Regions from separate parts of the Homo sapiens genome. Here region 1 is linked to region 2. The links come from fine-mapping of genetic effects on gene expression. Tissue or cell type: whole blood. Region 2 holds a variant in brackets; the other region holds the start of a gene. All regions are shown on one strand. Distances are between the middles of the regions.

Region 1 (5,285 bases), 47 kb before region 2:
GTCCCTGGATCTGGCTGATTTGAAGCAGGAGGTACCTATGCAGGACTGGGTGCTCCCCAGCCTTTCATGCACCCTCCAGCTTTCCAGACAGCTTGGCGGGATGACAGTGTGCCCTCAACCTTCTCCCACACATCCAACGCTTCCAAGGAGAACAAGGGCATCATTGATTTCAGGCGCTGGTAGGAATGTGCAGGGGCGGGCAGGCTTCCAGCACTCAAGCTTCCCTTGAAGATAGAAAATGCAAGGCTACCAGGAGCACTGAGAGGCCCCAGGCTGGGCCCAGCCAGGAATCCACCGGGAAATGCTCTTGCCTGGCTTCCGGAGCCTCAGGGCTGGAGCGGACACAGGGCTCCTGTCTTGGTGCCTTCAGTGGCTGGGCTGGCCTGGGAGTCTGGGGCAGAAGTTTATTTAAAGAACCTACTCTGAGTTCTGTGGGTGGCGCAGATCCAAAAATTTCATATATATTCAATGTCAGACTAAGCATTTTTCTGTGTGGCAGCAAAAATCTTTTACATAATTAGCTCATTTAAGCCTCACACATGTTTATGAGGTAGGATCACTATCATTTTACACTCAGTTGAGGAAACTGAGTCAAAGAGAAGAATGAAACCGACCTGAAATCACACAGCCAGTAACAAGGGGGGCTGGGAATGAACGCAGAGCCCTCCCACCCCAAGGTCCAAGTTCATGGCCGCTAGCAAGCATACAGCCAGCATAGAAGGAGATGAAGAGCACAGACCTTGTACCTTGCTTCCTGGCTCAGATCCCAGCTCTGCCACTTTTCAGCTGCGTGACTTTAGCAGGCTGCTAAACCTTTCTGTGCATCAGTTTTTTTGAGAGTAAAATGAGATAATAATAGGAGCTAGCACATGAGGCTGTATGTGGATTAAATCAATTAATATAAGTGAGTGCTGAAAACAGCCCCTGGTGTGTGTGTGTGTGTGTGTGTGTGTGTGTGTGTGTGTGTGTGTGTGTGTGCTGTGTGTCTGCTGTCGTACATCCTAAATACGACTTCTCATTCCTGCACAATCTTGTTTTGTTAGCTCCTTCTCCACCTGTCAGTGAAGAACATCTAACACCTGAAACCCTTGCCAATTATTTTGGAAAGAGACTTTCTGGAGGAGGTCAGCCAATGCCACTTTCCAGCTGTTGTATCTTCTTTCCATCCAGCTGGACATTGCTAGATGATATCTGCTGCTTGCAAAGGTGCTGGGAGGCCTTGCTTCCAGGGCTTGGTGGGCACCATGTTACCCAGAGGAGACGGTGCCCAGCCAGCCTCTGCCACATGGGTGACTGGGCACCACCCCTGCTGCTGATGCCACTGGCACTCCCCAGGCAGAGGCAGCTCTGTTCTCTGAAGCCCTCATTGTGCCAGAGCCATATGGGGCCACCGCCGGCCACCTGCCTGCAGGGCCTGACATAGCACTTGAGGGAATTGGCTTTTGGTTTTTCCCACAGAATCCATGAACTCATGGGAGGCTGCGCTGTGAGTCAGAAATGAGAATTAACCCTCCTCTCCATTGCCGGAAGCCCTGTTATTATCCCCCAGCCCCATCTTCCTCATTCCCCGACTTCGCCTCCTCCCCACCTCCTTCAGTCAGAAGTCCTCAACCCGACTCCCTGTGAAGGCCCGTGGGATGGCCTTGGGGGACCTGCACTCTAACACTGGACATGTGCAAATCCTGGGAAGATGCTTACAGTTATCAGCATCCTCTCAAAAGAGGTTCATCACCTGAAAAAGTCAAGGACACTGGCTTCTATAGGATGAGCCAACCAGTTAGGTTGCATCCTCCGGGAAAGGCTCCCAGATAGAGTTATGTGTGCAGAGGGGCTATAGCTGAGTAACTCCTGTGGAGGGGCCAGGGGAGAAGTAAGCCAGCCCCACAGAGAGCTCTGGAGCACAGACCACCCAGGAGAGGAATCCCGTGGTGGGCAGAAATGCCAGGCCTTTGGGCCACTGCCTTGCTCTTATGTGGGCCTGGGCCAGCCCAAGGAGGGCACAGTCCTTTTTGAAAGCTGAAGCTTAGTCTGACGAGCTGTGAGTGGACAGCTGTCAGTAGCCACGCTCCTTGTAGCTGGGCCTGGAATCCTTCCTGGAAGGGGAGTGCGGTGCCTGCTGCATGGCCCTGGGCAGCTGCTGTGCACAGCTGCTGGCGGACCCTCACCAAGGTCCATCAGACCTGCCAAGGCAAACCTGAATCCTATATGTGACTCCATCTAAGCCAAGCTGGGACTCTTCCACTCTTAACTTGGAAAATGTGCATTCCCAGCTGCTAGGTCCTGAACTTGACCTGGGGAAGAGAACGACAAGGCCATGCTTGGGCAGGAGAAGCTAGGTGTAGGCAAGGGAATCTTTACCTTATGAATGGGTTGTATACATGTTGCTTGTTGTTTAGAGAGTGGAATACATTTTGTCCTGGAAATCCTACTATAAATGGGGGGATGCGTACCTGGGCCTTCTTGCAAAAGCCTGTTAAATTCCTAATGATGTTGAAATGGTGGGAAGGGTCATCCAGGGAGGACCTCCACGCCCGCCCATCTCCTCTGGGTTGCCCGGGCAATCCTGCAGGAGCCGAGGCTGGACGCAGCTGACCCCAACAGACAGGAGAAACAAGCCAGCACCACCGGAGAGAACCAGGCTGAAAGGGTGACCCAGGGCTTCCGTGGCCTAGAATGAGAGAGACATCGCATGGCGCAAGGTTCCAAGTAGGGTTCGCGGCGGGGAGGGCCCCTGCCGCAAAGGGACTCAGTGTTGTGCGAGGGAGGTGAAGTCGCTTCTTGATCAGCCGTATTTCTTGCCTACACTTGACACCGTCACCAGCCCAGGCGCCTTTCCGGTCACCCTCACGGAAAGGCTCATCCACGCTGGAAGGAGGGAACCTCCTCGTTAACCTCTAGCATGCCGGTGCCTGCCACCCCAGGGCGCGGGAGCCCGCAGGAGCAGGCGTGTGGACGTCCTGAGAGCTGCCACTAGATGGCGCGTCTGCCCTGCCTACTCAGGAGCCCCGCTCAGGGCACCGGGTGCGGGAGCCCGGCTAATTGCCCTCTAATGAGAAGGCTGCTCCCAAAGTGCCCTCCTCGCAGGGAAAGCCCCAGGCTCCTATCAAAGGGAATGGCTTATTTATCCTCTAACGTGAAGAAACTTCCACACAGCATCAATTAAACACATTAAATGTGACCAGAGTGAGAAAACATCTAAAGGATAGAATATTGAATTGTTGCCACTGACAAATATCAAACCACCCATTCTGGTCTCGGTGGCGTGTACAGTTGACCTTGAACAACACAGGTTTGAACTGTGTGTGTCCAGTTAGAGGTGGACCTTCTTCTGCCTCTGCCACCCCTGAGAAGCGGGACCAACCCCTCCTCTTCCTCCTCCTCCTCAGCCTACTCAGAAGACCACAAGGCTGAAGGCCTTCATGGCGATCCACTTCCACTTAATGAGTAGTCGATATACTTTCTCTTCCTTATGATTTTTTAAATAACAATTTCTTTTCTTTAGCTTACTTTATTGTAAGAATATAGTATATAATACATTAACATACAAAATATGTGTGAATCGACTATTTATGTTATCAATAAGGCTTCCAGTCAACAGTAGGCTATTAGTAGTTCAGTTTGGGGGAGTCAAAAGTTGTATATAGATTTTAAACTGTGTGGGGATTGGCACCCCTAAAGCCTTCATTACTCAAGAGTCAACTGTAGGTGGGCCCTGGGAAGGTTCTCAATTTTTTTTTTTTTTTGAGACAGAGTCTGTTTCTGTCACACAGGCTGGAGTGCGGTGGTATGATTTCAGTTCACTGCAACTTCCGCTTCCAGGATTCAAGCAATTCTCCTGCCTCAGCCTCCGAGAAGCTGTGACTACAGGTGCGTGCCACCATGCCCGGATAATTTTTGTATTTTTAGTGGAGACGGGGTTTCGCCATGTTGGCCAGGCTCGTCTCAAACTCCTGACCTCAAGTGATTCACCAGCCTTGGCCTCCCAAAGTGCTGGAATTAAAGGTGTGAGCCACTGTGCCTGGACGGTTCTCAAATTTTCTGAGATCAGATGGAGTCTGCCCCTCCACCTGGCAGGCTGAAGGCTGGGGCTTGCAGAGATGTGGTGTCTGTTACCCCAGACACTGCAGGTGACCTTGCCTCTTACTAACTTTTCTTATCAGTACCATTTGGACCCTCACACTCATGAGGATGTGGGTGATAATGTGGAGGTTAAATAATATGGTCACTGATGATATTTTCTATACTGTCTGTTTGCAGGGCAGAGTCTTACAGATCTGGACCACAGCAGACCTGAATCAAATAAGAATATGCCCAGATATGGGGTATTCGGGAGCAGATTATGAAACAAGGAAACTGAAGTCCTAAGCAGATCCACAGTTCCAAATTCTGAACCGCTTGAGGCCACATCAGATACAGGATGCTATTATGCTATTAGGGCTGTGGCTTAGTACATTATACAGATGGTGGGGAAAGGCCTGCAGGAGAAAGGCCTACCATTCCTGGATTCCAAAAATAGTGGTCTCCTAAGCAATCGATCTGCTTTTATGTTTAATATTCATCTGTTTCCCTTTCCCAGTTAACTCCTAGAGCCAAACTCACGGCCCACAGGAAGGAACCATATCAACCTGCACGGTGTGCTTTTAATTTCCCTCACCTTGTTCCAGCCTCTATTTTATGTTGCCACTCTTTTCTTTCCTTTCTTTTTTGCTCAGGCTTTTAGTACATATTTAACTTTTATTTTATGTCTCCTCCTCTTCAAACCACCTTAAGTCCTTTTTGGAATAGAGCAGAACACAAATAAAATAGGTGTCAGATACATTCTCTCTGTGACCTTGCATTGGGTCAAAGGACTCATGAATGTGTGTTACCTGTAATCTTTTGTGGAAAAGAGGATTTTAAAATTCTCTGCCAGCCTTCCCAAGTGGTGACATTTTCCTATACTACTTCTTTACTATTTCCTTTAATTTTGATTAACCTTTGACTCAGACACCTCTGACTAGTATCTTCTAGACTTTTCTCTTTTGCATGTAATACACAAAGCCTTCTTTTTTTATTTTCTAATTTCAGAAAGTGTATATTAATTTATTAGAGAACTTAGGTGGCTGATTGAAAAAAAAAGGAGGGAGGTACAGATTTAAACTTTTTTCCATCAAGAGTATTGCAAACCAGCAATACCATTTCATTAGTCTGGCTGGTGCTTTCAAAACCTATCAAGGAACAAGGAGAAAGTCACGGCAGGGTCACTCAAAAATTCATCTATCGCCAGGCGTGGTGGCCCATGCCTG
Region 2 (5,285 bases):
AAGCTCAGACTGGGGCATTCATTATGGAATGTCTTCCCTACCCACTGGATCAAGGATGACACTGAACTTCCTAAGCGGACAGGGCTGGAGCAACTTCTGGAAAGGGGCAACGGACCATCTGGGGTTCAAGAGAGAAATTCCGGGGGAAGGATCTCATCTAGCAATTCCTCCTCGGTTGGTGAGGTCAAGAACTAAAGCAGGTCCCAAGAGCATTAGGTGTCTGCAGAGTCCAAGTGTGACATAGCCCAGGAACAGAAGAGAGGCCTGGGGAGGAGATGGGCCCAACTGAAGAAGATCTCAGCAAGTAGCTTCTAGACGGCAGGGTTGAAAATCTCCTTGCATTTAACCATAAAGCCCCTCTGGCTTGCATCTATATCAGGCCGTATTTTGGTCTAGATTAGGCTTAGACATTTCTTCTAGTATCTATTACTTCTACTTATGACAGCTGCTCAGAGTGGTTGTGTTAAGCAGTATCTGTGTTAAGAAGGATTCCGAGGCCAGGTTTGGTCTCTGGAAGAAAGAGCACCATGATTCATCAGTAATGCCTACCACGGCCAGAGGGGAGGAGAAGGGGGTCTAGAACCCGCGCAGATGGCGGGTTATGGGGCTGGCAGGATCTTCTTCTTATCACCTAAAGAGGGAGACCAGGGAGGGACACAAGAAGGCAGGCCATTTATATTTCAATGAGGTCCGAAGAAATCTACTATTTTAAAGATTTCTTGTAAATCAATCTCCTATTGTTTATTTTTGCCACCTCTGTTCATTCCCTAATAGGAATCAGTTAGTAAAGCCTTTAAAGTTAAAAGGACATGTGGGTAGGTGGACAAATTTTGTCATGTTCTGCAGATGGTCTCGGAATTAAAGCAGCTGTAGGATCTCAAGCAAGTGGTGACAGATGAAGAGAGGAGCAGTGACTGAGCCACATCCCTGGGACTTTGCAGGGGGTAAGATAGGGCTGCATAGGGAGCCAGGCAAAAGAGAAGACCCTCTTATTTCATTGCTAGACATTCCACCCCCACTCTTAACGAGGTAATCACATGGGAAAAGGCATGATAGAGGTTTTCCAGGGCAAAAGAGAATAAAGAATATCATTTAGGGCAGTGTTGATAAGAATAGGAGAGATAATGGAATTGTGGTTTTAGAGGATAAATAAGAATGCCACTAGAGAGGAATGAAGAAAGAGATGGCACAGGGAAGGATCTGCTGAAAGAACAGTCATTCTTTTTCCAGCTGCAGCCCGGCTCACGGTCTAACCCCGTCAAGTCCTTGAGCTTCACAGGCTCTCAGGTTTTCCAGATATAGCGCTTTCACCCGCTGACCTCCCTAGGATGTCACTGCCTTTATCACTACTGAAGGATGCTATCTAATCATAGAGCCCATTAGCCACTAGAGAGGGGTGCTATTGTAAAAGACAGAGCGGCTGTGAACACAAGGAAGGAAAATGGTGTGGAAGGCTGGGGTCAGCACCTGGGGCAGCAGCCTCACAGAACGTGTTCCTGGCACCTGAAACCATACTAGTGCATTAGGAATTGCAATCTCTAAGGAACTGACGGCATACTCTAACGCCGACATTTCTTCTGTAAGTATTAGCATGTATTTTACTAAAATCTAGATTTCCTAGTCCAGATGTCAGGAAGGTACTGTGCTGCTTTGGGGCTTTCTGTCTGGCAACATCTATAAACAATGCAATGGTGATGCTAGTCAGTTTCACAGTCTCGTGTCTGCATCTTTTTTTTTTTTTTTTTTTTTTTTTTTGAGATGGAGTTTTGCTTTTGTTGCCCAGGCTGGAGTGCAGTGGCGCAATCTCGGCTCACTGCAACCTCTGCCTCCTGGGTTCAAGCGATTCTCCAGCCTCAGCCTATGGAGTAGCTGGGATTACAGGCGCCCACCACCATGCCTGGCTAATGTTTTGTATATTTTTTAGTAGAGACGGGGTTTCACCATGTTGGCCAGGCTGGTCTCAAACTCCTGACCTCAGGTGATCCACCCACCTCAGCCTCCCAAAGTGCTGGGATTATAGGCGTGAGCCGCTGCACCCTGCTGTCATGTCTGCATCTTACTGCATCTTATTTTCCCAACATTCTTTCTTCTGGTCCCTGAAAGATATGTTCCTCAGGACAACTTATCACAAGGTGCAAGCTTTAGTTCTCATTTCTCTAGACAAACAATGAAACATTTCACTCTCAGGAGGCCTGGGAACCCAGACCTAAAATGTCATTCCAGCGCCAGACTCTGCAGGGCGGGAGTGCAGGGTGTGGGGCTGCAAGGCACGTGCAGCAAACAGCACTGAAGCACCCTTTGAAAGCCAGCACCATGCGGAGGAATTGCTTAATAAGAAAACTGGGCAAGTCCCCCCAGCTGTATTTTCAGAGCCTTCAAAGCTCAGGGA[A/G]AGAAGAATCAGAGGTCCTAGTCAGCCTTCCCCCTCCCACCCAAGGGGATGCTACGGAGCCGTGAATCTAGTCAAATACTGTTTTGAATTGTCACTCTTCCTGCTCAAAAATCAGGAATCGCTCCACAGTTCTTTAGTAGTCCCAGTTACCTACCTCTGCGTTCTCTCTCCTAGGTAACCGACAAAGTACTTTTGCCTCACAAACAAGTACATCAGTCCAGCAAACGCAGCAGGAACTAAGTGGAGAAATGAAAACACCTGTGTCAGTTTCGTAGCCACCAAAACATGCTGTTAGCCCAATTAGGCAATCAACATTGGTCACAAAATCTAGCAGAAGACACACGCACTTCAGGAAAAGAGCCCAAGGGCTAGAGGAAACCTGAGAACCTTCCTAATACTGGTAACGACCTTATGCCGGCATCATGGCATTGTTTACAACAAACTTGTCCAACCCGGAGCCTGCGGGTCGCACGTGGCCCAGGATGGCTTTGAATACAGCCCAACACAAATTCATAAACTTTCTTAAAAATATGAGATTTTTTTTGCAACGTTTTTTCTTTAGCTCATCAGCTATTGATAGGGTTAGTGTATTCTATGTGTGGCCCAAGACAACTCTTCTTCCAGTGTGGCTCAGGGAACCCAAAAGACTGGACACTCCTGGTTTCCAAGGTATTTGCATATCTATCATCTAACCTGAGTCCTTTCAACATAACTAGTACCCACATTTCTATTTCCAGATGTGGAAACGTGGGTTCAGGTGGTCAACCAGGCTTGCATAAGGCTGTCAGCTCGTAAAAGGGGGCAGAGGGTAGGGCTTAAACCCCAAACCCAGCTCTGAAACTGGTTCTCTTAAAAGTACACCCTTCACCCCTGAGCCTCCCCACAGCACAATGTTTAACCTTTCTTGAACTAACAGCTACCATTTAGAAGAGAAGGACATTCCCTCTGCATTCTAGCCTTTTGGGAAGGAGATTCCCTCTGCGTTCTAGCCTTTTGGGAAGGAGATTCCCTCTGCGTTCTAGCCTTTTGGGAAGGAGATTCCCTCTGCATTCTAGCTTTTTGGGAAGGAGATTCCCTCTGCATTCTAGCTTTTTGGGAAACTGCCAAGAGCAGCACCCCAATAACTCTATGAAGTCCTGAAGGCTTGGAGCTGGGAGTTAACTAAGCTGGAACTAGTGTTATCTAGAGCTACAGATATAAAAGCAATTTAAACACTTCCGCCATTGAGGGAATACTTTTCACCTGCCGCAGTGCTCCTGGCGTTTTGGGAACTTGAGTCTCCAATCCTCCCAGCTCTCTGGTAAGGAGTGTGTTACTGTCACCATTTGACAGACGAGGAAATTTAGGCTTAGGCCACAAGAGCCTAAGACAGATGAGGACATCTGTCTTTTTCCTAGATCATCTCTGAGCCTGGCATAGTGCCTGGCACATAGGGGTGTTCAAAATAATATTTGTCAAATGAATGAAAATAAGTCAGGCCAGTGAAGGCGTGGAATTTGAAGCCAGGTCTTTCTGATTTCAAAACTTTATCACCACCACCTGCATTATCAATAATAACATTTATTGCGCTTCAGATGTTAGGTGGAATCATATGAAATGCTATTTTTGTAGGTCATAAATAGCCAGATATTGGCAGTTTTACATGGCTCAATCTGATATATGCCAAGCACTGTGTCAGGAGCTTTATACATATTATTTCACTCACCATAGGAATGCTACTAGCTAGACCATGGTCCTGTTTTACAATAAGGAAACTGAGGCTTGGAAAAGCTGAGTAACTGCCTGGAGTCACACACCAGCAATGAGTGTCCTTGGATTTGCCTCCAATCAGCCACTCCCCAAAACCCATTTCTTTCCACAATTCCTCCTGCCTTCCAAAATACTATTGTTATCCGGCAGATAAGAAAATCAAAGCAAAAGAGAAACTGTGAACTCTTTTTGAGACGGAGTTTCACTCTTGTTGCCCAGGCTGGAGTGCAATGGTGCTATCTTGGTTCACCGCAACCTCCGCCTCCCAGGTTTAAGTGATTCTCCTGCCTCAGCCTCCCGAGTAGCTGGCATTACAGGCATGCACCACCACGCCCAGCTAATTTTGTATTTTTAGTAGAGACAGGGTTTCTCCATGTTGGTCAGGCTGTTGTCGAACTCCCAACCTCAAGTGACCTGCCTGCCTCGGCCTCCCAAAGTGCTGGGATTACAGGCATGAGCCACTGTGCCTGGCCCATGCTATTCTCTAAAAATCACAAAGCTGTCACAATCACGATTTGCCTTGGGCAAAGTTTTTCCTTATGTTATACCATCTGAATGATTCTGCTCCAACTTACTGGTCCATTTTTCTTTCAATGGGAACCCAATTGAACATGAGCTAACAGAGATTATGGGTGGAAAATGGCCACACTCATACCCCTGTGCAAGGAAGGTGAGTGCCTCCTGCAGGGAAGTGGGCTGCTGGCACCAGGAGGGTACAAATCCAGCCCCTAAAATTCTGATGTTCGTTCAAGCCACTTGTTCCTCTGGGACTTGAGCTTCTGCTCTATAAAGTGAGGGATTTGCACTAGAATTATCTTTGGGTTTCCTTTCTGCTAAAAAAAATTCTACAGTCTACTTTATTCCTAAGAAATGACGATTATCAACCAAGGTTACTGATGCTTTTGTCTGCTGGCAATGACAAAGCTTGTTTTGACAGGAAATACCTATTTCCAGGGCTACGAAACACCTTCAAACTCCCATTGTATTTATCTAGCTACAGCAAGTCCGCATTCATCTAGATCAAGCATCATCTAAGACATAAAAAGAACCATAACTCCTAGTAAGAGCATAGTTTGACTTGATTTTTCAAGTAATGCGAGACATGTTTCCTATTTAACTCAGGAGAGAAAATAGGAAATAAATGGTG

Which allele goes with the higher level. Alleles are on the strand shown, and positions count from the first base shown. SD is a standard deviation of normalised expression in the study named.
For the expression in whole blood of the gene that starts at base 2,837 in region 1, allele G in region 2 goes with a lower level than allele A (small effect, 0.25 SD a copy in GTEx).

The links. PIP is the estimated chance that this variant, and not a neighbour inherited with it, causes the effect.
Region 1: it holds the start of LINC00398, and the variant in region 2 is fine-mapped to the expression of LINC00398 in whole blood (TOPMed, PIP above 0.99).

Annotation. Positions count from the first base shown.
Region 1 is chr13:30,800,758-30,806,042 of GRCh38, reverse strand. It overlaps LINC00398 (long intergenic non-protein coding RNA 398), which reads right to left and starts at 2,837. Exons shown (of 2, transcript NR_047012.1): 1 at 2,451-2,837. RefSeq lists an enhancer at 284-784 and a silencer at 2,943-3,062.
Region 2 is chr13:30,753,284-30,758,568 of GRCh38, reverse strand. It overlaps ALOX5AP (arachidonate 5-lipoxygenase activating protein), which reads right to left. Exons shown (of 5, transcript NM_001629.4): 4 at 2,544-2,625. It overlaps LOC124903146 (a long non-coding RNA gene), which reads left to right and starts at 2,970. Exons shown (of 3, transcript XR_007063743.1): 1 at 2,970-3,058. The variant A/G (reference allele first, on the strand shown) is at 2,390.